Regions from separate parts of the Homo sapiens genome. Here regions 2 and 3 are each linked to region 1. Evidence: fine-mapped expression QTL. A gene starts in region 1. Each other region holds a variant in brackets. All regions are shown on one strand. Distances are from middle to middle. Region 1 holds the start of RTF1 (RTF1 homolog, Paf1/RNA polymerase II complex component). Region 2 overlaps NUSAP1 (nucleolar and spindle associated protein 1). Region 3 holds the start of LOC105370943 (a long non-coding RNA gene).

What was found.
Region 2: its variant is fine-mapped to the expression of RTF1 in whole blood (TOPMed, PIP above 0.99).
Region 3: its variant is fine-mapped to the expression of RTF1 in whole blood (INTERVAL, PIP 0.99).

Annotation. Positions count from the first base shown.
Region 1 is chr15:41,412,284-41,422,566 of GRCh38, forward strand. RTF1 (RTF1 homolog, Paf1/RNA polymerase II complex component) reads left to right here and starts at 4,812. Exons shown (of 18, transcript NM_015138.5): 1 at 4,812-5,030. The coding sequence starts at 4,833. RefSeq lists an enhancer at 4,542-4,641 and a silencer at 4,702-5,291.
Region 2 is chr15:41,374,193-41,384,475 of GRCh38, forward strand. NUSAP1 (nucleolar and spindle associated protein 1) reads left to right here. Exons shown (of 11, transcript NM_016359.5): 9 at 1,520-1,636; 10 at 3,004-3,112; 11 at 5,901-6,854. The coding sequence ends at 5,994. Among named protein-coding and RNA genes, the nearest start is that of NDUFAF1, 23 kb to the right of the region's middle. RefSeq lists an enhancer at 9,367-9,905. The variant C/T (reference allele first, on the strand shown) is at 5,646.
Region 3 is chr15:40,906,059-40,916,341 of GRCh38, forward strand. LOC105370943 (a long non-coding RNA gene) reads left to right here and starts at 751. Exons shown (of 2, transcript NR_135836.1): 1 at 751-827; 2 at 2,771-3,293. RefSeq lists enhancers at 113-407, 1,597-1,726, 9,239-9,906 and silencers at 113-407, 337-676, 1,327-1,386. The variant C/T (reference allele first, on the strand shown) is at 5,771.

The DNA of each region.
Region 1 (10,283 bases):
GAGGCAGAGGTTGTGGTGAGCCGAGATCGTGCCATTGCACTCCAGCCTGGGCAACAAGAGCAAAACTGCCTCAAAAAATAAAAAATAAAAAATAAATAAATAAATAAAAATAAATACAATAAATAAAGAGACTTTCAATACCTACAGTAAGAGGTCAAGGAAAGCTGAGCCTGAGGATAATCATCAGAGTAGCCGGAGCTCCAATAAGCTTAAACTCCCAAGCAAGGCAGTGTGCCTAAGCCAAAGGCCAGGCCCTAGTTGAGAAATAATGGGACCATGACAAATGGGATGGGGATATCTGGTTAATACCCCTAAAGAATTTGAAATCCCAGGTACTCCCGAACCCTCTGAACCTGCAGAAATGATCTTCCATCCAGCCTCCTCTCCTCCTTTTAGACACTGCAGAGGCTTGTCCCTGGCAGGACTGAAGGATTTCTCCTTCCCCTCAGAATCTGCTCTTACCCCTCTCCTGGCCACTAGACTTATATAGGGTTAAGTCACCACATAACCCAGTGGGGGACATATTGGGCCTAATAAAGGAGGAAAAGGACTATACGCCAAAAGAGCTGCAAGAACTAGCCAAGCAGGTGGTGGCAGGAGCTGGGAGAGTAGCAAACGACTGGATTCTGAGGGTGCCTGATCAAGAGGACCAAGTTGTAAGATTGGGCCGGATATGGTGGCTCATGCTATAATCTCAACACTTTTAAGAAACTGAGGCAGGAGGATCACTTGAGGATAGGAATTGGAGACCAGCTTGGGCAACATAGTGAGATCTTGTCCCTACAAAAAATAAAAATAAAAAAATTAGCAGGGTGTGTTGGCACATGCCTCTAGTCCCAGCTACTTGGCAGGCTGAGGTGGGAGGATTGCTTGAGCCCAGGAGTCTAAGGCTGCAGTGAGCCATGATCATACCACTGCACTCCAGCCTGGGTGACAGTGCAAGACTCTGTTTCAAAAAAAAAAAAAAAATTCCAAGATTAGATAATGGACAGTATTTTTTTTTTTTTTTTTTTGAGATGAGGTCTCGCTCTGTTGCCCAGGCTGGAGTGCAGTGATGTGATCTCAGCTCACTGCAACCTCCGCCTTCCAGGTGCAAGCAATTCTCCTGCCTCAGCCTCCCGAGTAGCTGGGACTACAGGTGGGTGCCACCACGCCCAGCGAATTTTTGTATTTTTAGTAGAGACGGGGTTTCACCATATCAGCCAGGCTGGTCTCGAACTCCTGACCTCAAGTGATCCACCCTCCTTGGTCTCCCAAAGTGCTAGGATTACAGGCATGAGCCACCCCGCCTGGCCTAACTTATTATTATCATTATTTTTTTAAATTTTGAGATGGAATTTCACTCTTGTTGCCCAGGCTGGAGTGCAATGGCGCGATCTCAGCTCACTCCAACTCCGCCTCCTGGGTTCAAGTGATTCTCCTGCCTCAGCCTCCCAGGTAGCTGGGATTACATGCGCCTGCCACAATGCACAGCTAATTTTTTTTTTTTTGTATTTTTAGTAGAGATGGGATTTCACCATGTCGGCCAGGCTGGTCTTGAACTCCTGACCTCAGGTAATCCGCCTGCCTCGGCCTCCCAAAGTGCTGGGATTACAGGCGTGAGCCACCACACTCGGCTTGGCCTAACTTACTATTTTTTTTGAGACGTGGTTTCTCTAAGTTGCCAAGGATGGATTCCACCTCCTGGGCTCAACCGATCCTCCTACCTTAGCCTCCCAAGTAACTGGGACCATAGACCTGTGCCTCCATGCCTGCTTTGTAAACTTAAACCTTATAAGAACCCAAAGAGACAGACACTATCATTATCCTCATTTTACTAATTGGAAACTTTGACTGGTTGGGTTCTCTGGGAAGCTGACTCAAGAGGGAGTTTAAAGCAACGTTTATTCACTAAATTTAGACATTGATTAGACTCAATACGGACTAACTTCAGTACGTGAATCATTAGAAGACCCCTTGCAGAAAGATCAAAATCTACAGATTTCACTCAAAGAACATACTTTTATTAATTCCAGTCAAGGGCCACTGACCATGTCATGGCTTCCTTTTTAGCAGTACTGTGTATTAACACATTTAAAGAGGGTCCTCCAGAAGGGCACCACAGGCTTCAGGGTGGCTAGACATACGGAAGCTGGGCTGGTGATTCGGGGTCACCTTGGCCATGGTTCCAAGGATATGTCGGGGGAGAAAAGTCTATGAGCTGTATCTTAGGAAAACTCTTCTAGGGTAAAGAGGTAGTTGGACTTTATTTAGGTTGTTTTATTTATTTATTTTTTTGAGACAGGGTCTCACTTTGTCACCCAGGCTGAAGTGCAGTGGTGCGATTATTTTCTTTTTTCCTTTTTTTTTTTTTGAGAACAGGCTCGCTATTGTTGCCCAGGCTGGAGTGCAGTGGCGCGATCTCAGCTCACTGCAACCTCCACCTCCCAGGTTCAAGCAATTCTCTGCCTCAGCCTCCCAAGTAGCTGGGAATACATGCGCCCACCACCACGTCTGACTAATTTTTGTATTTTTAGTAGAAACGGGGTTTCACTGTCTTGGCCAAGTTGGTCTTGAGCTCCTGACCTCGTGATCCACCTGCCTCAGCCTCCCAAAGTGCTGGGGTTACAGGAAAGAGCCACTGCACCCGGTCCAGATTATTATTATTATTATTATTATTATTTTTGAGAAAGAGTCACGTCTGTTGCCAGGCTGGAGTGCAGTGGTACGATTTCGTCTCACTGCAGCCTCCGCCTTCAGGTTCAAGTGATTCTCCTGCCTCAGCCTCCCAAGTAGCTGGGATTACAGGAACACGCCACTATGCCCGGCTAATTTTTGTATTTTTAGTAGAGACAGGGTTTTACCATGTTGGTCAGGCTGGTCTCGATTTCCTGACCTTGTGATCCCCCTGCCTCAGCCTCCCAAAGTTGGGATTACAGGCGTGAGCCACTGTGCCCGGCCTAATTTTTGTATTTTTAGTAGAGATGGGGTTTTGCCATGTTGGCCAGGCAGGTCTTGAACTCCTGCCCTCAGGTGATCGGCCCTCTTCAGCTTCCCAAAGTGCTGGGATTACATGTGTGAGCCACCACGCCCGGCCCCTACTTTATATTCCTAATCACTAAAGGAAATAACTTCTGGAGCTGACCTTTTTATCAGCTGACCTCAAACTTAAGTATAAAAACTTATTTCCTATACACACCAGTTCCCAAAACCTTCTTCTCTCCTCTTGTATTTCATTTTTTTGATGAAGGGCTCACCTGCCACTAGCTTCCTAAGCTAGAATCTGAACATCAATAGGTATCTGGGAGCACTCCTTCCCTTACCCCTATCCCAAATCCTGGGGATTCTACGTTCCAAATTATCCAGAGTCCATCCACTTCTTTCCATTCCCACAGCTTCGTCCTTAGGTCAGGACACCATCATCTCTTGCCAAGAAGACAACAACAATCCAAGCGATCTCCCTGCCCTTAGTCCATTCGCCATACTGCGGTCAGAGTAATCTTTGAAAAACACAAATCAGGCCTGGGTGCAGTGGCTCATGCCTATAATCCCAGCACTTTGGGAGGCTGAGGCGGGCGGATCACCGGAGGCCAGGAGTTTGAGACCAGCCTGGCCAACATGCTGAAACCCCATCTCTACTGAAAATACAAAAATTAGCAGGGCGTGGTGAAGGGCGTCTGTAATGCCATCTATTCCGGAGGTTGAGGCTGGAGAATCGCTTGAACCCAGGCGGCAGAAGTTGCAGTGAGCCAAGATCGCGCCATTGCACTCCAGCCTGGGCGACAAGAACGAAACTCCGTCTCAAAAAAAAAAAAAAAAAAAAAATTAGCCGGGCGTGGTGGCAGGAGCCTGTAATCCCAGCTACTCAGGAGGCTGAGGCAGGAGAATCGCTTGAACCTGGGAAGCGGAGTTGCAGTGAGCTGCCACTGCACTCCAGGCCGGGCAACAAGAGCGACTCCGTCTCCAAAACAAACGAACAAACAAACAAACAAACAAAAAAACACCACCACAAATCAGGCTGGGCACGGTAGCTCACGCCTGTAATCCCAGCACTTTGGGAGGCCAAGGCAGGAGGATCCCTTGGGCCCAGGGGTTCGAGACCAGCCTGGGCAATATAGGGAGGCCCCGTCTCTACTAAAACACAAAACCACACACAAATCAAATCATGTGGTTCTTCAGTTTAAAATCTTTCAATACTCAAGTTCAAACTCCCTAATTCAGCTTACTTATTAGGATCTGAGTGAGGCAGTCGCCGTGTCCTTCTCCAGCCTGGTCTGTCGCCTATCCCCACCCACAATCTCTGCTCTGGCCATAACTAACTTCAGTTCTCCGAACCTAACTTTATTATCGCCGGGCCATTTTGCCTACGCTGTTCTCTGCATGCAACACTCTACTCTCCTTTTGGGTAATTCAGATGCATTCTCCAGGTCCCAGCTCAGCTGTCATTCGCACAGCCCGGGTCGGCAGTCTCCAGCCCCCAACCGGTGTCCACCGCGTGGTCCAGGCGACTTATGTCTTCCAGGCCGTCGGCCCCTTAAGTACACGCCATCAGTGTTGGACAGCTTGAAAGTAGGTAGACACGTGAGCCCCCTCAGAGAGAACCTGGATCCTTGCGGCTCCAGCCCCCGATAGGAAGAGAGCCCACCAAACTTCGGCTCCGCAGCAGAGATACAGCCAAGGACTCCAGGGCAGTCGCGGGTAAAGCCACCACCACTCTCTGCCGGGAACCAGCGACGGGGGAAGGCCCCGCCTCTCACGCTGCGTCGGGGGCGGGGCAGGGCGGGGCACCCGGCGACCTGCGAACGGCGTGCGGCGAGCAGGGGGCGGGGCCAGGGGGGCGGAGCGGAGCGCGCATGCGCGGTCGCCTTTGTGTGGGTCGAGCAGCGGCGGCGGCGGCGGCAGTGGCGGTCCCACTGGCAGGCGGGCAAGAGGGGAGTCCGGGCGGCGGCCGGCGTGGGAGCCGGGGGACCACCATGGTAAAGAAGCGGAAAGGCCGCGTCGTGATCGACTCGGACACAGAGGACAGCGGCAGCGACGAGAACCTGGATCAGGTGAGGGCAGGCCGCGGAGGCGCGGGCCGGCGGAGCCAGAGGGCTGTCGGGGCCGCGGGAGCCGGAGACGGCCGGGCCTGGAGCCTTCCTACCAGAGCGCCCAGCTCGCCCCGTGCCCTGGGCACCACTACAGCCCCTTTCCCGTCTTCCTGGAGTGTGCGGGGCCTTGGAGACCGGCCCGGGCCTGGAGACGGAGCCCCGAGGACTTGGCGCCTTGGGCGGGGAGGCGGGGCAGGGACCGGGCCGTTGGGCCTCGGGCTCGGGGGTAGCGAAAGGGGCCGCGATCTTCCGGGGCCAGATCGGGGCGGCGGGCTGTAGTCCAGGAGATCCGGGCTGGGAGAGATAGGAAGTATCGCCCGCCAACCTGGGAGGCTGGGAGGTTTTGGAGGAGGTGCAAGGGTGCGCGTCGAGCAGTTGGGGGCGAGGGCCAAGAAGATCCGGACTCTGGAAGATGGAAGTTTTTCGGACAAGGGATGTGGACAGAGGAAGGACACTCGTAAATGTTCCTAGGAGCCTCTGCCATGCTTGCCAAGGATGACTTAGCTGTGGGCACGAGTTTATTTGGCGACTAGGGTCGTTTGTGTTTGAGAAGGGCCCTTGTTGAGGTGTCAGACCCAAAAAAACACTCTTGGGTGGAGGAAAGAGGGCAGATACTGGAAGAAATAGAGAACTATGTAGGGCGACATGGAGGGACTGTGCATAGCCCAGGCCTCCTCTTGGCCCTTTCACGCAGCATCCCAGAATTCTTTCTTACTTGAAGACTGCAGGAAGCACTGAAAGTAACTTTTGGCCTCAGTGTCTTGGGGTTGAACTGTTTATATACTCTAGAAAACATTGTAGGGAGGAATCTGCTCTTTGTAGCAGTGCTCTAGTGATACCAGGCGATACAAAGATGGTCTCCTTTCTGTTTAATGAGCAAATGATGTAAAGAAAGAATATGCAAGAGATAGTAGCTTTTGAGTAGAAAGAGTATTGAACTTGGAGTCTGAAAATTTGAATTCTAGGCTGGGCTTATGCTATTTTCTAGCTATATATCTTTGGTCTTAAATGTAAAATGAAAATGTAACATCAGCCTTGTGTATCTAATTGGTTTATTGTAAAGATCAAGTGTTTGTAAAAATTGATGGCAGTGCAAGCATTTGCTAATTGTAAAGTTTTTCTATGAATGGCTTCTTGGGGGTCTTTTATATGAAGCCAGAGGTCTCAGTTTGAAAGTATTAGGGGCTGGGCGCGGTGGCTCACGCCTGTAGTCCCAGCACTTTGGGAGGCCAAGGCTCATCTGAGGTCGGGAGTTCGAGACCAGCCTGACCAACATGGAGAAACCCCATCTCTACTAAAAATACAAAATTAGCGGGGCGTGGTGGCACATGCCTGTAATCCCAGCTACTCGGGAGGCTGAGGCAGGAGAATTCTTGAACCCGGGAGGCGGAGGTTGCAGTGAGCCTGGGCAACAAGAGCGAAACTCCATCACAAAAAAAAAAAAAAAAAGAAAAGAAAGAAAAAGAAAGTATTAAGGCATAAAAGGGGAGGACTTTTTATTTATTTATTTATTTTTTTTTGAGACGGAGTCTCGCACTGTCGCCCAGGCTGGAGTGCAGTGGTGCGATCTTGGCTTCACTGCAAGCTCCGCCAAGGGGAGGACTTTTAAGAAGAAAAGGATTGAGGAGGTGCTGTAGAAAGAAGACTGCTTTGAAAATGGTGGTAGGGAGATGGAGAAGTAATGGGGCCTGTGTAAGACTATCTAAGGAATAGAAACTTTGTTTTGGGGTAGGAATTGAAAATGTTCTCATTGAAAGGCTCCTGAAGTTTACAAAAATATCAAAAGTATAATTTCGACTGTAAAAGTTTGATTGGTAGATAATTTTAGACTGGCAATTAGAAGGAGTAGAATCTATTTTTTTCTGTCTTTTCATCTACAAATGTGAATGTTTCAGACAATAACAACATTGGCTACCATTTATATAGTGCCTAGAGTAGGCACTTTAATTGTTTTGTTTAGATTTTCAAGTTTTCACATTATGGTAAATTTGGAATTATTTCCTCTACTTTACATAAAGAAAATGGAGGTTGAAAAAGTTAAATAACTCACAACTAGTAAGTGGTAGCATTGGGATTTGAACCCAGATCTGCATGAGTACAAAGCCTATACTGTTTCCACTATACCAACTCAATCTGTTAGTTTTAAATTTTTTTCATACTGCAAAATGATAATGTTTCACAGTCATTTTTCATGGTGCTAGAGTTCGTGTTTATAAAGTACACTGGATAGTTTAGAGGAAATTGGTACATACATTAAAAGGATTATTTGGGGGGATTTCTTGGTAAAGCACTCTCAAGACATCTGTTCAAGTGATGAATGAACTGAACTGCAAATTATTGTCCTTAGTAGTTTCCCACAGAATTCTGATGAATAAAATAAGTTGAGTGCTTCTTTTCGTGGTAGAGATATTTCACCTGATCCACAAAAAGCTTTTTCAAAGTGGGAACTGCAGAGAATTGCCACTTTATTTATTTATTTATTTTTGAGACGGAGTCTTGTTCTGTTGCCTGGGCTGGAGTTCAGTGGCACAATCTCAACTCACTGCAACCTCCGCCCACTGGGTTCAAGCGATTCTCCTGCTTCAGCCTCCCGTGTAGCTGGGACTACAGGTGCCTGTCACCACACCTGGCTAATTTTTTGTATTTTTAGTGGAGACAGGGTTTCTCCATGTTGGCCAGGCTGGTTTCGAACTCCTGACCTCAAGTGATATGCCCACCTCGGCCTCCCAAAGTGCTGGGATTACAGGCATGAGCCACCGTGCTTGGCCGGAATTGCAATTTTAAATCCAATTCTAAATATCTATTTGTAAAAGGAAATTAACATAAAATGTGTAATACCTAATACATTTTAACAACAAATTTAACTTCCTCCCCTTCAGCTTCTTATTTGCATTCTTGTTATCAGATGGGAACTAGATCAAAATTCCCTTTCCCTGCACATCCTAACAGGGGTATTGATGCCTTCAGTTTGTCTGTTCAGCACTATGCCAGACTCTCAGAATAATCAAAGAGGAAGATCTCTGCCCTCTAGACATTTTCACGAAAGACCTTTAGCACAAGTTCACTGTCAGTGCTGCTTGGGGGTCTTTAGGAATCCTAATGCATTCTGGATCTTTCCTGCCCCAAATACCTTGTGCTGCTCCATCTGGTTCTGAGTCTTCACTGGGGGTATAACATTAGACTTGCTGTCTAGCGTATGGTACTTGTGGAAGGAACAAACCATGACAGATCACTGAGTATCTAGTGTGGATTGGAATGCAGTTCGTAAGGAGGCCTTTTGTCCCTGGGTTTTTCAGATGGGAATCTGAGCCATTATGTCAAAAATTTTACCTCCAATTTATTCCTTACTGAAGGTGAGATATATGGGCCTTCTAGGCTGGTTTTTCCTGGTGGTAGGGGCAGACCTCTGTGTCAGAAGCCACCTGGGTTGCTTATTTAAAATGTAGGTTGGGACTTAGAGGGTGCAGCAGTTCCCATCCTAGACCTACTGAATCAGACTCTCAGGGGATAGAGGTCTGGACTCTGCATTTGTAACAGGTATAGCTCAAGTAATTATGATTTATGTTAGTGATTAAGATCACTGCCTATATGCAGGTTAATCTTTTTAGTAACACACTATAAGTATTTAGAAGAGAAATAGCTTCCTGTGTCTGCCATAGTACTTCCAAATTAAGCGTACATGTATAGGCTGGGCATGGTGGCTCATGCCCTGTAATCTCAGCACTTTGGGAGGCCAAAGTGGGAGGAACACTTGAGCCCAGGTGTTTGAGATCAGCGTAGGCAACAAAGTGAGACCTCATCTGTACAAAGACTTTAAAAATTGGCCAGGTGCAGTGGCTCATACCTGTAATCCCAGCACTTTGGGAGGCCGAGGTGGGCGGATCACCTGAGGTTGGGAGTTTGAGACCAGCCTGACCAACATGGAGAAACCTCGTCTCTACTAAAAATACAAAATTAGCCAGGCATGGTGGTGCTTGCCTGTAATCCCAGTTACTCAGAAGGCTGAGGCAGGAGAATCACTTGAACCCAGGAGGTGGAGGCTGTGGTGAGCCGAGATCGTGCCATTGCACTCCAGCCTGGGAAACAAGAGTGAAACTCTGTATTAAAAAAAAAAAAAAAAGAATTTAAAAATTAGCTGGGCATGGTGGCGTGCCTCTAGTCTCAGCTACTTGGGAGTCTGGGGTGGGAGGATTGCTTGAGCCTGGGAGGTTGAAGTTGCAGTTACTTGTGGTCCCACCGTTTCTCTTCAGCCCAGGTAACAGAGTGAGACCCTGTCCCAAAGAAAAAAAAAAAAAAGGCACTTGTATAACTAAAAGAACTTGACAGGGAGGTTTTAAGATGGCAAAACTACTGGTTCTTTTTTTTTTTTTTTTTAGGCAGGGTTTCACTCCTGTCACCCAGGCTGGAGTGCAGTGGCACAATTACAGCTCACGGCTGTAGCGTTGACCTCCCTAGCTCAGTGATCCTTCCCCCTCAGCCTCTCAAGTAGCTGGGACTACAGGTGTGCACCACCACACCCAGCTAATTTTTAAAATCATTTGTAGAGATGGGGGTCCCACTACATTGCCTAGGCTAGTCTGAAACTCCTGGGCTTGGGTGATTCTCAGGCTTTGGCCTCCCAAAGTGCTGGAATTACAGGTGTGAGCTGCCACACCAGGCCTTATTTATTTATTTGTTTGTTTGTTTATTTATTTATTTTTGAGATGGAGTCTCACTCTATCGCCCAGACTGGAGTACAATAGCACGATCTCGACTCACTGCACCTTCCACCTCCTGGGTTCAAGCAATTCTCCTGCCTCAGCCTCCTGGGTAGCTGAGATTACAGGCGCCTGCCACCACACCTGGCTAATTTTTTGTATTTTCAGTAGAGACGCTATGTTGGCCAGACTGGTCTCTAACTCCTGGCCTCAGGTGATCCAGCACCTGGCCTTATTTTAACCTTTGAAAGTTTTTAAAACTAAGACCTAGTTTGAGAGTTTGAAAGCTTTTCTTTTAGCATTTGACCTGATAGTGACTCTGTCCTTATTTTGACCACACCCTTTCTTCAACATTTTTAAATTTCAAGATACTTGCTGTTGGTGCCTATTGGGAAATAATAATTTGAGGCAAACCTCTGGGCTCTATGTCATCTCCCTTTATGGAATAATATTTATGCAGTAAGTCCTATAAAATGAAAAGCATTCAAGATAATAAAGGAACCAGAGTTCTCAATTC
Region 2 (10,283 bases), 38 kb before region 1:
TTGCGGCTGCTATTATATAACAAAGCACCAAAGACTGTATCTTATAAACAGCGGTAATTTCTTTCTCATAGTTCTGGAGGCTGGATGAGGGCAGATCAGGGCACTAGCATGATTCTGGTGAGGGCTGTTTTCCAGGTAGCAGACTACCAACTTCTTGTTGTATGCTCATGTGGCAGAAAGAGAGCTAGAGAAAATTCTATGGGGTCCCTATATAAGGCCCTGAATCCCATTCATGACCTATTTACCTCCCAAAGGCCCTACTTCCTTACACCAGTCATATTGACAGTTAGGATTTCAATATGAATTTGGGATCGCAGGAGATACAAACATTCAAGCTATAACTTTTTTCTTTTTTTGAGACACAGTCTCACTGTCGCCAGGCTGGAGTGCTGTGGTGCAATCTCGGCTCGCTGCAACCTCCGACTCCCTGGTTCAAGGGATTCTCCTGCCTCAGCTTCCTGAGTAGCTGGGATTTTGGGCACACGCTGCCACGCCTAGCTAATTTTTGTATTTTAGTAGACACGGAGTTTCACTATGTTGGCCAGGATGGTCTCGCTCTCTTGACCTCATGATCCACCTGCCTCGGCCTCCCAAAGTGCTGGGATTACAGTCGTGAGCCACTGCACCCAGCTTCTTTTTTTTCTTTGTTTGTTTCTTTTGTTTTTTTGAGATGGAGTCCCACCCTGTTGCCCAGGCTGGAGTGCAATGGCGCAATCTTGGCTCACTGCAAGCTCCACCTCCCGGGTTCAAGTGATTCTCCTACCTCAGCCTCCCGAGTAGCTGGGATTACAGGCACGTGCCACCACACCTAGCTAATTTTTTTTTTTTCCCTCTCTGAGATGGAGTCTTGCTCTGTCACCAGGCTGGAGTGCAGTGGCACGATGTTGGCTCACTGCAACCTCTGCTTCCCGGATTTAAGCAATTCCCCTGCCTCAGCCTACTCGGCATGGGACTACAGGCATGCACCACCACGCCCAGCTAATTTTTTTTTTTTTTTTTTTTTAAACCAAGTTTCGCTCTTGTTGCCCAAGCTGGAGTGCAATGGCGCAATCTCAGCTCACCACAACCTCCGCCTTCCGGGTTCAAGCAATTCTCCTGCCTCAGCCTCCCGAGTAGCTGGGATTACAGGCATGTGCCACCACCCTGGCTAATTTTGTATTTTTAGTAGAGATGGGGTTTCTCCGTGTTGGTCAGGCTGGTCTTGAACTCCTGACCTCAGGTGATCCACCCGACTCGGCCTCTCAAAGTGCTGAGATTACAGGTGTGAGCCACCACACCTCTAGATAATTTTTTGTATTTTTGTGGAGACAGGGTTTCACCATGTTGGTCAGGATGGTCTTGATCTCCTGACCTCGTGATCCGCCCACCTCGGCCTCCCAAAGTGCTGGGATTACAGGTGTGGGCCACCATGCCCAGCCTATAACGTGTATTTTTAAGATTGAGAAGTAACACTTTGATAAACACTTTACCAGGTCTTTGTTTCTAATTAAGCTCTTGGGTTTTTTCGGTGTGTTTTTAGTTATTACCCCATTCAAGTTGACAACTGAGGCAACGCAGACTCCAGTCTCCAATAAGAAACCAGTGTTTGATCTTAAAGCAAGTTTGTCTCGTCCCCTCAACTATGAACCACACAAAGGTATGTGGGAGTGTTTTGAGCTACAGGGCCTGTAAAATACTTAAGATTGGTGGGACGCAGTGGCTCACACCTACTAAACATACAAAAATTAGCCAGGCGTGGTGGCAGGCACCTGTAATCCCAGATACTTAGGATGCTGAGACAGGAGAATCACTTGAACCTGTTAGGTGGAGGTTGCAGTGAGCCGAGACCGTGCCACTGCACTCCAGCCTGGGCAACAAGAGTGAAACTCCATCTAAAAAATAAAAATAAAAAATAAAAACTTAAGAATAAACAAATTCTGCGGCCGGGCGCAGTGGCTCTGGCCTGTAATCCCAGCACTTTTGGGAGGCTGAGGTGGGCAGATCACTTGAGGTCAGGAGTTCGAGATCAGCCTGGCCAACATGGTGAAACCCCGTCTCTTCTGAAAAAAAATAAGAAAATTAGCCTGGCGTGGTGGCGGCGCCTGTAATCCCAGCTACTTGGGAGGCTGAGGCAGGACAATCGCTTGAACCTAGGAGGCAGAGGTTGCAGTGAGCCGAGATTGCACCACTACACTCCAGCCTGGGTGACATAGTGAGACCACGCCTCAAAAACAGGCTGGGCGCGGTGGCTCACGCCTGTAATCCCAGCACTTTGGGAGGCCAAGGCAGGCGGATCATGAGTTCAGGAGATCGAGACCATCCTGGCTAACACATTGAAACCCCGTCTCTACCAAAAATACAAAAACAAAATTAGCTGGGCATGGTGGCGGGCGCCTGTAGTCTCAACTACTCGGGAGGCTGAGGTGGGAGAATGGTGTGAACCCAGGAGGTGAAGCTTGCAGTGAGCCGAGACCACACCACTGCACTCCAGCCTGGGCGACAGAACGAGACTCTGTCTAAAAAATTTAAAAAATAATAATAATTAAATTTAAATTAAAAAAAAAAGCAACACATAAACTTCAAGAAATTTGGTCCCAGTTCTTTTTGTAAAATTGCAAATTGGTTGGACACAGTGGCTCATGCCTGTAATCCCAGCACTTTGGGAGGCCAAGGCAGGCAGATTGCTTGAGAACAGGAGCTCAAGACCAGCATGGGCAACATGATGAAACCCCGTCTCTACTAAAAAATACAAAAATTACCCGGGCATGGTGGCATGTGCATGTAGTCCCAGCTACTCATGAGTCTAAATTGGGAGGATCACTTGAGCCCAGGAGGCGGAGGTTGCTGTGAGCTGAGATCAGATCACACCACTGCACTCCAAACTGAGCGACAGAGTGAGATTCTGTCTCAAAGAAAAAAAAAGTATAAATGTTGATAGCAGGTAACCCCACAGATGAAGAGAATGAAGTTGGGAATATAAATCAAACAATCTTTTTAAAATTCTTTGTCTCTGTCCTAAACTAGGAAAGCTAAAACCATGGGGGCAATCTAAAGAAAATAATTATCTAAATCAACATGTCAACAGAATTAACTTCTACAAGAAAACTTACAAACAACCCCATCTCCAGACAAAGTAAGTACATAATTATCCAGCTTTATAATTATTTTAATTTCAAAAGCAGCACCTCTGAGGGATAGGGGCTCAGTAATAGTGGTGTTTTAAGAGGAGGTTAGAAGTGGTATTATGGCCGTGTGCGGTGGCTCACGCCTGTAATCCCAGCACTTTGGGAGGCCGAGGTGGGCGGAACACGAGGTCAGGAGATCGAAACCATCCTGGCTAACACGGTGAAACCCCGTCTCTACTAAAAATACAAAAAATTAGCTGGGCATGGTGGCGGGCGCCTGTAGTTCCAGCTACTCGGGAGGCTGAGGCAGGAGAATGGCGTGAACCCAGGAGGCAGAGCTTGCAGTGAGCCGAGATCGCGCCACTGCACTCTAGCCTGCGTGACAGAGCCAGGCGCCGTCTCAAAAAAAAAAAAAGTGGTATCATGGGCCAGGCACGGTGGCTCACGCCTGTAATCCCAGCACTTTGGGAGGCCGAGGGGGGCAGATCACGAGGTCAGATCGAGACCATCCTGGCTAACGCATTGAAACCCCATCTCTACTAAAAATACAAAAAATTAGCCGGGCGTGGTGGCGGGCGCCTGTAGTCCCAGCTACTCGGGAGACTGAGGCAGGAACCTGGGAGGCAGAGCTTACAGTGAGCCGAGATCACGCCACTGCACTCCAGCCTGGGCGACAGAGTGAGACTCCGTCTCAAAAAAAAAAAAAAGTGGTATCGTGTATATAACTTTCTGAGTACATCTGCCTAGGTTCCAGTGTAATGGACTCCAAATCAGCAGATTTGGGGTGAGGCCCAAGCACCTGCATTGTTTCCAAGGCTCTGCAGGTGATTCAGAAGAAGACCCAGATTCAGAGCACTGCTCTTGCATGACTCATCTGCCTAAACACAGGGCATGTGGGTATCTCTCCAGATACCAATGCCCAGCAGCCCAGGGCACCTACATATCCAGATAGACATAAATTCCTCACTCCTAAGAAAACCAGGCTTACAAGGCGTCAAGGCCCTATAAAGAGGAAAAACCCAGGACGGTCCTTAGAGGCTTCCTTCAGCATGAAAACCAAGTTAAAGCCAGAGCTCATCCTGGGTTGCAGCAAGTCATGGTTGGGCCCAGATTCCCTGCTTGGACCCTCGTGACACAGGGTTACCTGTCAGTTGACTCATGGCTATACACGACTGCCACCAGGGCCTTTGCTCACCGTTATTAAGTTGGCCAGGCAAGGTGGCTCACGCCTGTAATCCCAGTACTCTGGGAGGCCAAGGCGGGTGGATCACGATGTCAGGAGTTGAAGACATGGAGAAACCCCATCTCTACTAAAAATACAAAATTAGCCGGGCGTGGTGGCACATACCTGTAATCCCAGCTACTCGGGAGGCTGAGGCAGCAGAATCACTTGAACCCGGGAGGCGGAGGTTGTGGCGAGCTGAAATTGCACCATTGCACTACAGCCTGGGCAACAAGAGCAAAACTCCGTCTCAAAAAAGAAAAAAGAAATCAAAGTCAAAGGTCAAGCTCAAAATCACATAGTTTAGTGAAAGGAATAGAACTAGAACCAGGATCTACTGAGTTAGCCATTATGCTCTACTTTCAGAGGATTAGACAAACCAAAAAAAAAAAAGAAAAAGCCCAAGATTATATTAACTTATCTTGGTTTTTTTTTTTTTTTTTTTTTTTTTTTGAGATGGAGTCTCGCTCTGATGCCCAGGCTAGAGTGTGGTGGTGCGATCTTGGCTCACTGCAACCTCTGCCTCCCAGGTTCAAGTGATACTGCTGCCTCAGCCTCCCGAGTAGCTGGGATTACAGGTTCCCGCCCCCGCGTGCAGCTAATTTTTGTATTTTTAGTAGAGACGGGGTTTTACCATCTTGGCCAAGCTGGTCTCAAACTGCTGATCTCAGGTGATCCACCCACCTTGGCCTCCCAAAGTGCTGGGATTACAGGCGTGAGCTACCACACCTGGTCAACTTTGATTTCTAGGTGTAGACATTTCTCATTTAAAACAAATTTTTTTTTTTTTCTTAGAGACAGGGTCTTACTTTTTGTCACCCAGACTGGAGTACAATGGCATGATCATAGCTTACTTTGGCCTTGAACTCCTGGGCACAAGGGATCCTCCCACCTTGGCCTCCCAAAATGCTGGGATTATAGGTGTGAGCCACTGCATCTGGCCTAAAGCAAACTGTAAAATAACAAGAGTTGGATTCAATCAGCAAGGTGTCTCCTGACTCCAATTCCATGCATGATTTTATTATTTATTTTTGTTTGTTTGTTTTGAGACAGTCTCATTCTGTCGCCCAGTCTGGAGTGCAGTGGCGTGATCTCGGCTCACTGCAACCTCCGCCTCCCGGGTTCAAGGGATTCTCCTGCCTCAGCCTCCCCAGTAGCTGTGATTATAGGCATGCACCACCACACCTGGCTACCTTTTTTGTATTTTTAGTAGAGACGGGGTTTCACCATTTTGGCCAGGCTGGTCTCGAACTCCTGACCTCAAGTGATCTGCCTGCCTTGGCCTCCTAACGTGCTGGGATTTCAGGCATGAGCCATCG[C/T]GCCCCGGCCTCCATGCATGATTTTAGAGTGCTGAGTTAACAAAAGGAAAATACCAGTTTCTAACCCTTTAACACAACAATGACGAACAGGTGTTAGAAACACTAGGCAGAGCACAGTGCCCTCTAAGAGTCTGTTTTACACAAGTATGCTGGATGTCATTGCTTGGAAGTTTGGGTGTTAGTCCAACAATAGTTGCTTTAAAGTATCTGTTTTGGAGCCTCCCTAGAGCTTAATGTGTGACCTATCCCTCTCAGGGAAGAGCAACGGAAGAAACGCGAGCAAGAACGAAAGGAGAAGAAAGCAAAGGTTTTGGGAATGCGAAGGGGCCTCATTTTGGCTGAAGATTAATAATTTTTTAACATCTTGTAAATATTCCTGTATTCTCAACTTTTTTCCTTTTGTAAATTTTTTTTTTTTGCTGTCATCCCCACTTTAGTCACGAGATCTTTTTCTGCTAACTGTTCATAGTCTGTGTAGTGTCCATGGGTTCTTCATGTGCTATGATCTCTGAAAAGACGTTATCACCTTAAAGCTCAAATTCTTTGGGATGGTTTTTACTTAAGTCCATTAACAATTCAGGTTTCTAACGAGACCCATCCTAAAATTCTGTTTCTAGATTTTTAATGTCAAGTTCCCAAGTTCCCCCTGCTGGTTCTAATATTAACAGAACTGCAGTCTTCTGCTAGCCAATAGCATTTACCTGATGGCAGCTAGTTATGCAAGCTTCAGGAGAATTTGAACAATAACAAGAATAGGGTAAGCTGGGATAGAAAGGCCACCTCTTCACTCTCTATAGAATATAGTAACCTTTATGAAACGGGGCCATATAGTTTGGTTATGACATCAATATTTTACCTAGGTGAAATTGTTTAGGCTTATGTACCTTCGTTCAAATATCCTCATGTAATTGCCATCTGTCACTCACTATATTCACAAAAATAAAACTCTACAACTCATTCTAACATTGCTTACTTAAAAGCTACATAGCCCTATCGAAATGCGAGGATTAATGCTTTAATGCTTTTAGAGACAGGGTCTCACTGTGTTGCCCAGGCTGGTCTCAAACTCCACCAAATGTACTTCTTATTCATTTTATGGAAAAGACTAGGCTTTGCTTAGTATCATGTCCATGTTTCCTTCACCTCAGTGGAGCTTCTGAGTTTTATACTGCTCAAGATCGTCATAAATAAAATTTTTTCTCATTGTCATAGATTCATTCTTTGTAAACATAAGTCTTCCAAGATTTAGGTGAGCAGCTAGGCTTAACAAGAGTTTATACATACCCTTGGTATGCCCTTTCCTGACCACTGCTTCCATTCAAAAAAGAAACGGCAGTATGCTTCCTTTATATTCCCAGAGTACCTCTCAGGTTTTATTAAATGCTGTTTTGTATATACGAGGCTTTAGGACATGGCACACTTCCGGGTACTGGAAACATTCAGATTTTCCTATCAAGGGGAAGAGATCAGATCAATTTTAAAAATTCAGGGTCAAATACACATCTGATGGAAATGTAAAATGTCACAACCACTTTGGAAAACAGTTTGCTAGTTTCTTTGAAAAGTTAACAGTATGTCTACCGTGTAATCTAGCCATGCCATTAGGTAGTGAGACCCTATCTGAAAAAAGAAAAAACCACCAGGATCTTACATAGAGAAAATCCTAAGGATTTCACTAAAAAGCTCCTAGAACTAATAAATTCAGTAAGGTTGCAACGTACAAGATCAATACCCAACAATTATGGCCAGACACAGTGGCTCACACCTGTAATCCCAGCACTTTGGGAGGCCAAGGCAGGCAGATCACTTGAAGTCAGGAGTTGGAGACCAGCCTGGCCAACGTGGTAAAACCACATCTCTACTAAAAATACAAAAATTAGCCAGGCATGGAGGCGGGCGCCTGTAATCCCAGCTACTCAGGAGGCTGAGGCAGGAGAATCACTTCAACCCGGGAGGCGGAGGTTGCAATGAGCCAAGATCATGCCACTGCACTCCAGCCAGGGCAACAGAGTGAGACTCCGTCTTGGAAAAAAAAAAAGATCAAGGCCGCCGCGCCGGCGAGCGCCGCCCGGGAGGCAGCGGCTGGAGGAGCGGACGGGCCCCGCGGGGCCCGAGGGCAAGGAGCAGCCGCCTGCCTTGGCCTCCCAAAGTGCCGAGATTGCAGCCTCTGCCCGGCTGCCACCCCGTCTGGGAAGTGAGGAGTGTCTCTGCCTGGCCGCCCATCGTCTGGGATGTGAGGAGCCCCTCTGCCTGGCTGCCCAGTCTGGAAAGTGAGGAGCGTCTCCGCCCGGCCGCCATCCCATCTAGGAAGTGAGGAGCGCCTCTTCCCAGCCGCCATCACATCTAGGAGTGGGGAGCGTCTCTGCCCGGCCGCCCATCGTCTGAGATGTGGGGAGCGCCTCTGCCCCGCCGCCCCATCTGGGATGTGAGGAGCGCCTCTGCCCGGCCGAGACCCCGTCTGGGAGGTGAGGAGCGTCTCTGCCCGGCCGCCCCGTCTGAGAAGTGAGGAGACCCTCTGCCTGGCAACCACCCCGTCTGAGAAGTGAGGAGCCCCTCCGCCCGGCAGCTGCCCCGTCTGAGAAGTGAGGAGCCTCTCCGCCCGGCAGCCACCCCATCTGGGAAGTGAGGAGCGTCTCCGCCCGGCAGCCACCCCGTCCGGGAGGGAGGTGGGGGGGGTCAGCCCCCCGCCCGGCCAGCCGCCCCATCCGGGAGGGAGGTGGGGGGTCAGCCCCCCCGCCCGGCCAGCCGTGCCATCCGGGAGGGAGGTGGGGGGGTCAGCCCCCCGCCTGGCCAGCCGTGCCGTCCGGGAGGGAGGTGGGGGGGTCAGCCCCCCGCCCGGCCAGCCGCCCCGTCCGGGAGGTGAGGGGCGCCTCTGCCCGGCCGCCCCTACTGGGAAGTGAGGAGCCCCTCAGCCCGGCCAGCCACCCCGTCGGGGAGGGAGATGGGGGGGTCAGCCCCCCCACCCGGCCAGCCGCCCCGTCCGGGAGGGAGGTAGGGGGGTCAGCCCCCCGCCTGGCCAGCCGCCCCGTCCGGGAGGGAGGTGGGGGGGTCAGCCCTCTGCCCGGCCAGCCGCCCCGTCTGGGAGGTGAGGGGCGCCTCTGCCCAGCCGCCCCTACTGGGAAGTGAGGAGCCCCTCTGCCCGGCCAGCCGCCCCGTCCGGGAGGGAGGTGGGGGGGTCAGCCCTCCGCCCAGCCAGCCGCCCCGTCTGGGAGGTGAGGGGCGCCTCTGCCCGGCCGCCCCTACTGGGAAGTGAGGAGCCCCTCTGCCCGGCCAGCCGCCCCGTCCGGGAGGGAGGTGGGGGGGTCGGCCCCCCGCCCGGCCAGCCGCCCCGTCCGGGAGGGAGGTGGGGGGGTCGGCCCCCCGCCCGGCCAGCCGCCCCGTCCGGGAGGGAGGTGGGGGGGTCGGCCCCCCTGCCCGGCCAGCCGCCCCGTCCGGGAGGTGAGGGGCGCCTCTGCCCGGCTGCCCCTACTGGGAAGTGAGGAGCCCCTCTGCCCGGCCAGCCGCCCCGTCCGGGAGGGAGGTGGGGGTGTCAGCCCCCCGCCCGGCCAGCCGCCCCGTCCGGGAGGGAGGTGGGGGGGGTCAGCCCCCCTGCCCGGCCAGCCGCCCCGTCCGGGAGGTGAGGGGCGCCTCTGCCCGGCCGCGCCTACTGGGAAGTGAGGAGCCCCTCTGCCCGGCCACCACCCCGTCTGGGAGGTGTGCCCAACAGCTCATTGAGAACGGGCCAGGATGACAATGGCGGCTTTGTGGAATAGAAAGGCGGGAAAGGTGGGGAAAAGATTGAGAAATCGGATGGTTGCCGTGTCTGTGTAGAAAGAAGTAGACATGGGAGACTTTTCATTTTGTTCTGCACTAAGAAAAATTCCTCTGCCTTGGGATCCTGTTGATCTGTGACCTTACCCCCAACCCTGTGCTCTCTGAAACATGTGCTGTGTCCACTCAGGGTTAAATGGATTAAGGGCGGTGCAAGATGTGCTTTGTTAAACAGATGCTTGAAGGCAGCATGCTCGTTAAGAGTCATCACCACTCCCTAATCTCAAGTAATCAGGGACACAAACACTGCGGAAGGCCGCAGGGTCCTCTGCCTAGGAAAACCAGAGACCTTTGTTCACTTGTTTATCTGCTGACCTTCCCTCCACTATTGTCCCATGACCCTGCCAAATCCCCCTCTGTGAGAAACACCCAAGAATTATCAATAAAAAAATAAATTAAAAAAAAAAAAAAAAAAAAGATCAAGACCCAACAATTATATTTTTGGCTTTTTTTTTTTTTTTTTTTTTTTTTTTGAGGCAGAGTCTGTCTCTGTCACCCAGGCTGGAGTACAGTGGTGCGATCTTGGCTCACTGCAACCTCCACCTCTCCTCGAGTTCAAGCGATACTCTCTATCTCTTGACCTCGTGATGCGCCAGCCTCAGCCTCCCAAAGTGCTGGGGATCACAGCGGTGAGCCACCGCCCGTGGCCTAATTATTGTGTTTTTTTTTAGAGAGACACGGTGTTGGTCTGTCACCCAGGCTGGTGTGCAGTGGTAAGATTATAGCTCACTATAACCTTGACCTCATGGGCTCAAGGGATCCTCCTACTGCAGCCTCCCAAGTAGCTAAGTCTACAGGTGTGTGCTACCACACCTGGCTAATTTATTT
Region 3 (10,283 bases), 510 kb before region 1:
TCTGTCTTCTCCTAAGCCAGCCCATCTGGTCCTAGGCTGCTTCCTCTTTCCTGGGAAAAGGCCCCAGGCTTCCCTGGCAGGGACAGAATAGGGTTCCGGTGAGTCAGGGCAACGGGAAGCCACAGCTCTTAGATCCCTGGAAGCCAAGCAAGACATGGAATGGAGAGCAGAGCGGAGGCCCTCAGGGCTTTGGCCCTAAGCCTGGAGGGCCAGAGGGGGGTGGGGTGGGGGAGCAGCTGCGTGGGCAGGGGCCAAGATGAATGAGCTACTCCTGGAGCGGTCACTGGAAATAGAAGGAGTGGCCACAGGCAGTGACGCTGGGACCAGGGCAGGAGGCCTGTAAACAAGGAAGCCACCTGGGGGAGACGCAGGGCGGCCACTGGTCCTGGGGAGCAGGTGCTTCCTGAGGCCCGCCCTGGAGAGGGCCCTGGGGGCCGCCCCGCCGAGTCTGCAGTGGGCACTAGGGGGCGCCGTCTACCGGCTTCCCGAGCCCACCGCTCCCTACCCTGGCTCCTGGGGGTGTGGCCGCCGGAGGGTGTGCCGGCCCAGAGTCCCAGGCCCTGCCTGCCCGGCCTCTCCCTCCCTTCTCCTGTCACCGCGGCCGACTGGCCAAGGGCACCAGCCCTGGAGAGGGCACAGGGCTCAGCGTGGCCAGCTCGGATGTGAGCTCATTCCCCCGAGACCACCAGTTCTAGTTCCTGCCCCTCCCCCAAAGGCTCGGGTCGCAGGCTGGTGCCTGGCACCCACCCCAAAGGTTGGGAGGGGGCTCGAGGCCATCAGGCTCCAGGCCGCACTTGGCGCTGCCCCCTGGCGCCAGGGAAACAAAGGTTAGGGGCCCAGAGGGAGTTATCTGGCCCCACCGCCACCGGGTGGGGGAAGGGGACCAAGAGGGGGCGCAGTTCCCCTCCACTCCCCCAGCCCTACTGATTCTTCGAGACACTTTCACAGGCGGAAATTCCCAGAGGTCAGAGGAGGGAAACGGTTAATTCCTTTTATTCAATGGGTCCCCCCTACACGCCTCCCCCCAACTTCCTCCCTCCACTTCCCGCCCCCCCCTGTGTGAACAGGAAGTGGAGAGGAAAAGGCTCTGAGCGGAGCAGCTGGGAGCAGGAGGCAGGGAGTGGGCGGCGGGCTTGGTGCCAGCCCTGCCCCTCATGCTTACTTGCCGGAGGGCCAGGCCAACCGCGGCCTGGGAAAGAACCTGCAGCCCCGCTGGCGAGTGGCAGTTGAACCGGGAAACAGCAAACTCCATGCCCTCTTTCCTTAACCTGCTCCCAGGTTACAGGCTGCTGTCCTCAGGGTGCCAGACATCTTCTGCTCAAGAGCCAGCTGCCCTGGCCACCACAGCCCCACCTCCACCACCAGGCTGGGCATCCCGAGGCTGGCAGGCATCTCTTCAGGCAGCCGCCAGTCCTGGCACTGGCTCCCCCACTCAGCCCCTTGGCCCTGCCAGCCCTTTGAAGCTCATGCAGCGCTTCCTGTTTGGGGCGGGCGATGCCAGGGCCCCTCCCCCACCATTGTTCTGGAGAGACCATAGGTCCATCTGTTGCCCCATGGTGGGGCCCCTAGGCAGTGCCACACGGGAGCAGCACCACAAAGGACGCTGCTGGCAGCTTTGCTTATGTGGGGTGAGGCTGGGCCCTGCAGCAGGTTGAGGGTGAATGGTGGTCAGAGGCAGGCCTGGGGCGGGCACTGGGATAGGAGGATGCTAGAAAGTTCTGGTGCTTGGGCAGCTGGAGCCCTCAGCTTTCTCCTCCACCTGGAGCATGGAGATGATATTCAGGGAGCCATACGTGCTGAAGCCACCAGGAGAGGGCCACCATTCTCATGCCTGGATTCCCAAAAGGAAAACTGAGGCAGAGGGGCAAACTTTGGTCCAGGATGGCCAATAAAAGGGTCACAAAATAGGGTTGTCATTTCAAGGGGATTGGCCCCACTCTCTGAATGCCCAGTAATTGGGTGCTTTCCTCTCCCTGAGCAGCTTTACCGTGGCTCAGCTTTCACCTTGAACCAGCCCTTACTGAGCAGTCAGAAACCATACCGTGAGGTCAGGAGAGGCTGCGCGGCCTTAGTTTGGTGGCCAGCAACCCATGTCCACTGAGAATAAGCTTGGGCAGAGAAAAGGGAAAGGGGCACTGGTCTGGCCCCCCGGAAGGTGGCTGCTGCTTCTGGTTCCCAGGCTGCTGTGGCCAAAGGTCTGTTTGTGTTTGCCAGGTGCAGAGGCAGGTGGCTGCAGCTCACCTTCCCTCCATGGCATGATCTCCCAGCTCTGACCCTTGACCTGTTCCCTCGCGGCATCTCCACAGGGCTAGAAGGTGAACCCTACTTCCTTTACCAGGTCCTCTGGTTTCTCTTCCCAGGCCAGGACCTAAACCGTTCACAACTCCCAGCAGGCCAGAGCTGCAGAGACCTCAGATAGAGACTATAAAGTGCTGTGGAAGCCTTGTTCAAATAAAAACATTCATGAATGTCCAGTACTTGAAATTGGTATGCTGAGATTCTCCGATGGAAACTGGGCTGGAGGGACCCACACTCCTGTTCACTCAGCCTGTTCTCCACTCCTATCTCAATGTCTCTCTCTCTGTTTTTTTTTTTTTTTTTTAATAGAAACAACACCTTGTTCTATTGCCTAGGCTGGAGTGCAGTGGCGCCATCATAGCTCACTGCAGCCTTTAATTCCTGATCTCAAGTGATCCTCCCACCCCAGGCTCCTGAGTAGCAAGGACTACAGACACCACACCTGGCTAATTTTTATTTCTATTTTTTGTAGTGACGGGGGTCTTGCTAGGTTGCCAAGGCTGGTCTTGAACTCCTGACTTCAAGCAGTCCTCCCACCTCAGCCTCCTAGGGTGTCCGGATTACAGGCATGAGCCACTGTGCCCGGCCCCCTATCACGATATCCATAAGATGCCAGGATGCCCAGGAACCGAGTTTGAAAGACATTGTGCTGCTGATCCCACCTCCTGACTTTACAGCTGCTGAATTGCAGAAGACAAATTGGTAGCTAACAGGAGGCTCCATCCTGGATCCTGCCCCTGTCCGTGAGATTCAGCCTTGATTAACTGTGTTCCCATGCTGGTCGTGAGCAGGGCACCATCCTAGGTCCTTCTTTATACTCATTTTCCATCTCCAGCCAAAATGGGTTGAACCGAGGAACAAGGACATAATCTGTAAAGAGCAAGTGCAAGTCTCTGCTCTGCCATTACCAGCATCAGGCTAATCAAGCCCTTGGAAACTCAATTTCTTCTCCTGTAAAATGTGAATAACTGTTACAGACCTGGAAAGGCTCTTGTGAGGCTGAAATGAGAGCGGTGCCGCCCATCTGTCAAGGTAGCCCAGGGCCTGGCGCCCAAGCAGCCCTGGGCACTTGCCCCTCTTCCCTTTTACTCTGCACCTCCTTTCTGTAGGCGTAGGACCCTGAGACCTGTCCCAGCTCATCCCTCACAAGGCCCTCTGACTTCTTCAGATATCAGAGTGGAATTGGAAGAAAGAAGCTTGCTTGAGTAGGTTTTTCTGGTTTCTTGAACAATGGCGATTCTAAGGAAAAGAGGTTCAGGATGAGAATGAGAGGAAGCCCACAGGCATGTAGAATATGGCCACAGGTGGGACAAGAGTGCTTCCTTGGGATGGGGGTCCTGGTTCCCTGAAGGAAAGGAGACAGGGCACTACTCCAGCTCCAGGAGTCTCATAGGACAGGCCAAGAGGGCTGGGCAGACACCATGCTGGCCGCTGATCAGGCATGACTCCTCTGCCAGCCTGCCCTCGCAGGCCAGCCCAGAACTTGCACAACAGTCGGCCTGGCTGGCACTCTCCCGGGAGCTTCAGGAAGTCCCCCTTGTCCTCCCCTTGACCTTTGACCCCTTGGGCCTGCTGCCGACCAGAATACCAGGCAGATGTTCTCTCTTTTACCTTTTGTTCCTGGTCTTTCCCTCTAAGGCTGGAACTCAGAGATACCCCAAACCCCCAGCTTCCAGCTCATCCTTCCCCATGCTCTCAGTGCGGACCAGCTGGAGCCTCCACTGGGCCGCTCTCCATGTGAGCCAGTGTGGATCCTTGGCCACAGCCGGCAGGACGCTTGCAAGTGCCCCGACTCCAGACATCCTCCCAGGTGTCCTTCCCGACTAGCTCCCTGTCCCAGGCCCCAGCAGGTGAAGCAGGAACAGCAGACAGAGCCTCCTTCCCTCCCCGGCATCCTCTGAACAGTCAAAGTTGGAAGAACCCTAGATATTGTTCCACATTAAACTATGCACGCCTCGTGGCACTCAGTTTCACAATCAAATAACTCCCTCTGGTTTTCTAGTGGAATTTCTGCTTTTATTTTATAGGGTTTCTTGGCTTCTTTTTTTTTTTTTAAGCAATCAGTCTAAATTTGTCATCACACATCCCCCATTTCCGCCCCTAAGGGCCTCCTTTTCATCCCCTGGAATCTGGAAACCATATGTGTGGGCAGAAACCCCCCAGCATCCCCCACTGCACCCTGGCCCAGCCTGGCCTCCGCAGGGATAACCGTGTTAGCTGGGGAAGAGTCTACACTCCACACTGGGGCTAGAAAGGGAGTTTCTCTTTGGACCTTCCCAGCTGAAGCCATGGAGAAGCCGTGTGGTCTAGTGGTTAGGGCTAGAACAGATGGGTTCTGTTCCCGGCAATCTCTTTGACTAACACCAGAAGCCTGGGAAAGTCCCCTTAACACCTAAGGGACTCAGTTTCCCCACCATCTGAGGGGCTCAGAGTTTCACCAGCTAGCTCATCTCCTACCCGCCTTGGTGGAAAGAGTTTTTGATCTGGAATTTCTGCTATGTCACTTACAAGCTGTTTGACCTTGACAAATTGCTTAACCTTTCTGAACCTCAATTTCCTCATCTATAAATTAGAGACTATTATCGTACCTACCACCTGGCTATTGTTGGGATTAAATAAGAAAACATATTCTCAAGGGCCTCGCACCAGACGTACTGTGAGAACTCAAGAAGCAGGCGTTGTGATTGTTAATAATAAGTAGAAAGGCACAAAGAGGTGGGAGTGTGTTCTTAGCGAGTCTGCCCCGGGCCAGACCTGTCTGCCCCTGCCTCTCCTGCTCCGGCTGACTTGTCCCAACCTTCCCTGGGCCTCCTCTGCTCTGGAAGGCAAGGATGCGTTACCAGTCATTGTGGATCAAGGCTGAGGCCTGTCTGCTCGTCCCTGTCTCCATGACGACCCCAGCCCCTCCCCTCCTTCCTTCCTCAAGAGCTTTCTGTTTACTGTAAACAGCTGCCCCAGCTCAGCCCTAGCTGATCCCCCCCACACCCAGGGCCAGCCAGACCCTCTTTGAACCCGGCCTGGACTGGTGTGAAGGTCTGCTCACTGCTTCTCGGGCTCCACAAGGCCTCAAACAAACTCTGTGTTTCCACCTTGCCTGGCCGGGAGGGGAGAGGAGGAGGGGAGGGAACTGTTACCTCAGACCAGGGCAGCCAGGGCCTCAGAGACAAGGAACAGATGGGGCGTAATGGAGGAGGACCACACCAAGAGAGTTGGGTGGAGACATCTCTGGCTTGGCCTTAGACTGACCGGGTTCAAATCCTGGCCTAGATTTGCTCACCGCATGACCTCAGGCTGGTCACTTAACTTCTCTAAGCTTCATTCAATTTATCGATTTATAAAATGGAGATAATAATACCTCCCTCAGAGGGTTGGCTGCTGGGCAGATTGGTAATAATGCATGTAAAACCCCTGGCTCAGGTCTTGACACATTGCTAGCCTACAATGGTGGTGGCTGGACTATTATTTCACTTTT[C/T]AGGTCCTCTCCTTCTGCTCAGCAACCTTGCATAAATTCCTGCCTGTTCCTTGACCTGGCATGTCTCAATCACACAGGCCTGCACATACATGTGTACTCAGCAAACATATGAGCTGGGTAATGAAATGAAAATTCACAAGCGTATCTGAGGCACAGGAGACTCAATAAGAGCAGAGGAAAAGTCTGTTTCCTAAGCCCTTCCACAGGCCTGAGCTGGGACGTCCATGTGTGCCACCATCACCAGGGCACTATGGCTTCCTCCCTCTTCCTCCATTTGGCCTCCAGGATTGCACCCACCCTCCCTGCCCAGCGGAGCGCAGTGCAGGGATAGAGGGAATGCTGTATGGGATAGCTCCCCTTTCCTGTGGGCCAAGCTTTCAGGGCAAGATGGTCTGGGATGTGGGGCTTCTGGCTCCCAGCTCCTGATGGGTCCAACTTGGCTCCCTTGACTCTCCAGCATCCTTGGAAGTGCTGGCTAATTAATGCTGCCTTGTGAGATGAGATTTAGACCTGCCATTTCGCTTACCACCAGGCCCGCCCAGCAGCCCTGGGGCAGAACCTGGGGTTAAGCAGGGGCATTCATCAATTTGAGTCATTCCCCACAAGCCCATGAGTAAGTATGGTGCTGGATTTCCAGACCCCTGTCCCCTCCCTGAGATGCCTGTTGGGGTCTTCCAGGGCTGGGTCTCTGTTGGTTGCAGGTACAGCCCTGGGGTTCTCTTGAGCAGGGCGTGGCAGCTGCAGGCTTTCAGGCCTAGCTAACTCCACTGCCCCCACATGCTCTTGCCCACAACCAGGTCTAACTCCAGCGTTTGTGTGCTCACCCCAGCCTGGCTGCATGAGAAAGGAGAGGAGCCCCCAGTACTGAAGTCAGCCCCACGGGTTGGGCTGGAAATCCCCCACTTCTTACCTTGGCTGCTTGAGGAAACAGCCTCCCGGCAGAGGGCCGCCTCCCGCCAGGGACTTTTCTCCTGGGGATGACATGGAATGCAGGGCAGCTACAAGGACCCTAGCCTCACTGAGCCACACATCAGCCAGCCTGAGGGGCAGGGGAGTGTGTCGGTCACCCAGGACCACTCTCTCCCTTGCAGGGAGCTTGGCAGCTAGGGTCCTAGAACCCCTGAGACTTACGCAGGCCTAAAGGGGGAACAGGGAGAAGGAGGCCGTGGGGACCAGTGGTGGCCAGGAATATCCAGACTGCTGCGTGGTCCTGTACCTGGAGCGCACCAGCCCCTCCTCCACACTCCCTTCCCCTACCCCAGCACCCAGCCTGAAACTGGCTTCCAATAGGATGTAAAGCCCTCACTGATCTTCCAGGATGGTGGTCTCCAGACTTTTTTTTTTTTTTTAAACAGATGGGGGTCTCACTATGTTGCCCAGGCTGGTCTTGAACTTGGGGCCTCAAGAGATTCTCCTGCCTTGGCCTCCCAAATTGCTGAGATTACAGGCGCGAGCCACTGTGTCTGGCCTCCCAAACTTTTTTGATTGTGAATATTTATGCATAGATTATACACTACAGTCAAAACACATATTAAATATTATTTATTTTAAAACATTATTTATTATTAAATATTTTATTTATTTATATATTTTTTGGAGATGGAATTTTGCTCTTGTTGCCCAGGCTGGAGTGCAGTGGGGCAGTCTCAGCTCACTGCAACCTCCGCCTCCCAGGTTCAAGCGTTTCTCCTGCCTCAGCCTCCCGAGTAGCTGAGATTACAGGCGCCCGCCACCACACCCAGCTAATTTTTTGTATTTTTAGTAGAGACTGGGTTTCACCATGTTGGCCAGGCTGGGCAGGCTGGTCTCAAACTTCTGAACTCAGGTGTTCCACCTGCCTCAGCCTCCCAAATTGTTTTTTAATTAAAAAATAAATCAAAATAGAAATCATATTTCCTCCCATCCCCCCAACAAATGCCTCACTGGCCCCATATAGGCCACTGTGGAGCCCACTGTGTAGATAGAGGAAGGCAGGAGAGCCTCTCGGAGCAGACCATCACCCTACAAGAGGATCCAGGGCCTGAGGGGGCAAATGATTTTCTTAATCCATTGCCAACCACAATCGAGTAACCCACATCTGAAGCCGTTCTATTTGTTGTTGTTAACTTGAAAAGAAACTTGGTCATCTTAGGCAAGGCCCTGTTGCTGTGGTGGTTGTGCTGCCAGTTCCTACCCCAAAGGCCCAGGCAGCCTGTCCCATCCTAGGACCGCAGCACCCAACGTAGAAAGTGAGAGTTTATCGAGGAAGAACACCCAGCCTGTGTGTGTGTGTGTGAGTGTGTGTGCGTGTGTGTGTGACTGTGAGTGTGCGACTGTGTGTGCGACTGTGTGTGTGTGACTGTGTGTGACTGTGTGTGTGTGTGCGCGACTGTGTGAGTGTGACTGTGTGTGAGTGTACGACTGTGTGTGACTGCGTGAGTGTGTGTGTGTGACTGTGAGTGTGTGTGACTGTGTGAGTGTGTGTGCGACTGTGAGTGTGTGACTGTGTGTGACTGAGTGTGACTGTGTGTGTGTGTGAGAGTGTGTGTGAGAGAGAGTGTGTGTGTGCACATGTGTATGTGTGCATGCACGTGCTGGCCCAGAGTGTGTCATTCTAACAGAACCTGCCCGGTGATGGCCTCTGCTTTCTGGTCTGCTCGTCTTGGAGGCCCCACTTGTGTCACATAGGTACTGAGACACCTGCATTAACCCTTCTGACGGAGTCATAAGAACCCCTGACATTGAATTAGAATCTTTCTCTCGTCTACATCCTCACCACATGGCTGTTTAGGTAGGTGAGGCAGGCATCAATTTGTCCATGGTGGCGGGCAGGGGGCGCCCACGGCACAGAGAGGTTTGGGGAATTGCCCAAAGTCACACCATCTAGTGGAGCTGGGTCTCGCGTGTGCTCCCACCCTTCCTAGGTGTCTTTACTCATGTTCTGCCATCCTGGTCCCACAGGGCTGCTTGACCGTTCAGAATTCTGGCCTGGGAAGAATCAGTTCCCAAGGGCCATGGGACCTCTCTCCTGCAGCTGGGGGGCAGCCTGCCCTTCCTGCCCCACTAGAGAGAAGGCAAGCCCAGGACCCTCTCCCTATCCTTGGACATGTGGGCCCGTGGATAACAATCTTCGCAGGAGCAGGGTCCCTGACGGTAGAGGAGAGAGGCCTGACTTTCCTGCCAAGGCCAGAGTTGCCCCTGGCTCCAGCTCGCCTGGCTGGATCTGGGTCCAGGGCTTCCTCCTTCATTCAAAAGCTCGGCCCTCTGAGGGTGGCAGTGGGGGAGGGGGAAGGGCTCAACCTCCAGCCCCCTCCCCCCATCACTGACAGCTGTAATCTGCTTGGGAAAATCTCTTTTTTTTTTTTTTTCTGCACAGGAAAAAATATTAGTTGTCCCGATAACAAGGAAAACAAAATCTAGCGCAGGGCATCAGAGACTTCCTGAGGCGGGAAACAATGTCCAGTGGAGAGATCAGTGGAGACGGCCCAAGCTGGGAGGCTGAGGGGGAGCTGAGAGAGGACTCTGGTCCAGTCCTATCCGGCCAGGGGGGAAGGGGATGACAGATCGAGGAACTTGGAAAAAAGATTTCCCCCCAAAACCTTGAAGTCTGGGCTGTTGAGCTATATCCGGGAAATGATTCAGGACCAGAGCACGTCCCTGCCTGGGGCCAGGCCCCATTGGCTCAGGTGCTCCGGGTCTACCTTTTTTCCCTCCCAGTCCCCTGCCTGCTCTCCCAGGTGCTACCCCAGGCCTGGGGGCCTGGAGAGTGAGACAGTAGGGTCCCTTCGGAGGTGGTGGATGAGGCCACGGGTGCCCCATAGGCAACCCCCGCCCCCTGCCCCTGGGGCATCTTGCCTTATCTGCCCACAGCTGCTTCCCTGAGGAACTTTCCACTAAGGGAGGGGGGTCAAGAAGAGGAGGACCTCTCCAAAGGCCCAGAGACTCTGGTCCCCTCCACCTCTACCAGGAGACTGTGGCAGTGGGCAGCGGCTCCAGGAGCTTGCACTGGGGGGGCTTATGATGGAGGGGCTCCAATCCCAGCTGCCTAGTCGTGGGTGCCGGGACACTGGGCTGTTGGGTCCAGTGGGCGTGGCCTCTGAGCACTGTGGGCCTCAGCGAAGGGACAGGAGGAGGAACAGGAGGCCCTGTGCTTCCAGATAGCAGTATCCCTCAACCCTGGCTGCACACTGCGTCACTGGGGAGCTTTTGGAAAATACCAGTGCCTCCAAGGCCTCATCTCAGAACAGTTCTATCAGGGTGCCCACAGGAGCTGCTCAGGTGATCCTTGTGCATGGCCAGGGCGGGCGGAGAACTCCTGCTCCATGGCCCTGTAACCCTTCAGTCACTTTCTGGCTGGCCCCCTCCACCTCTGCCAGCAGAACTGGCCCCTCCATTTCAGATTGGAGCCCCTCAGAGATGCCCACCTAGCCGGTGGCTGCCCGAGGTGCCCACAGAGTTCCCTGACCCAGCTGGAGGCCAGTTGCCCAACCCAATAGCAGGTTCTGGGTTACCCCCGCTCCCTCCTTCTGCTCCT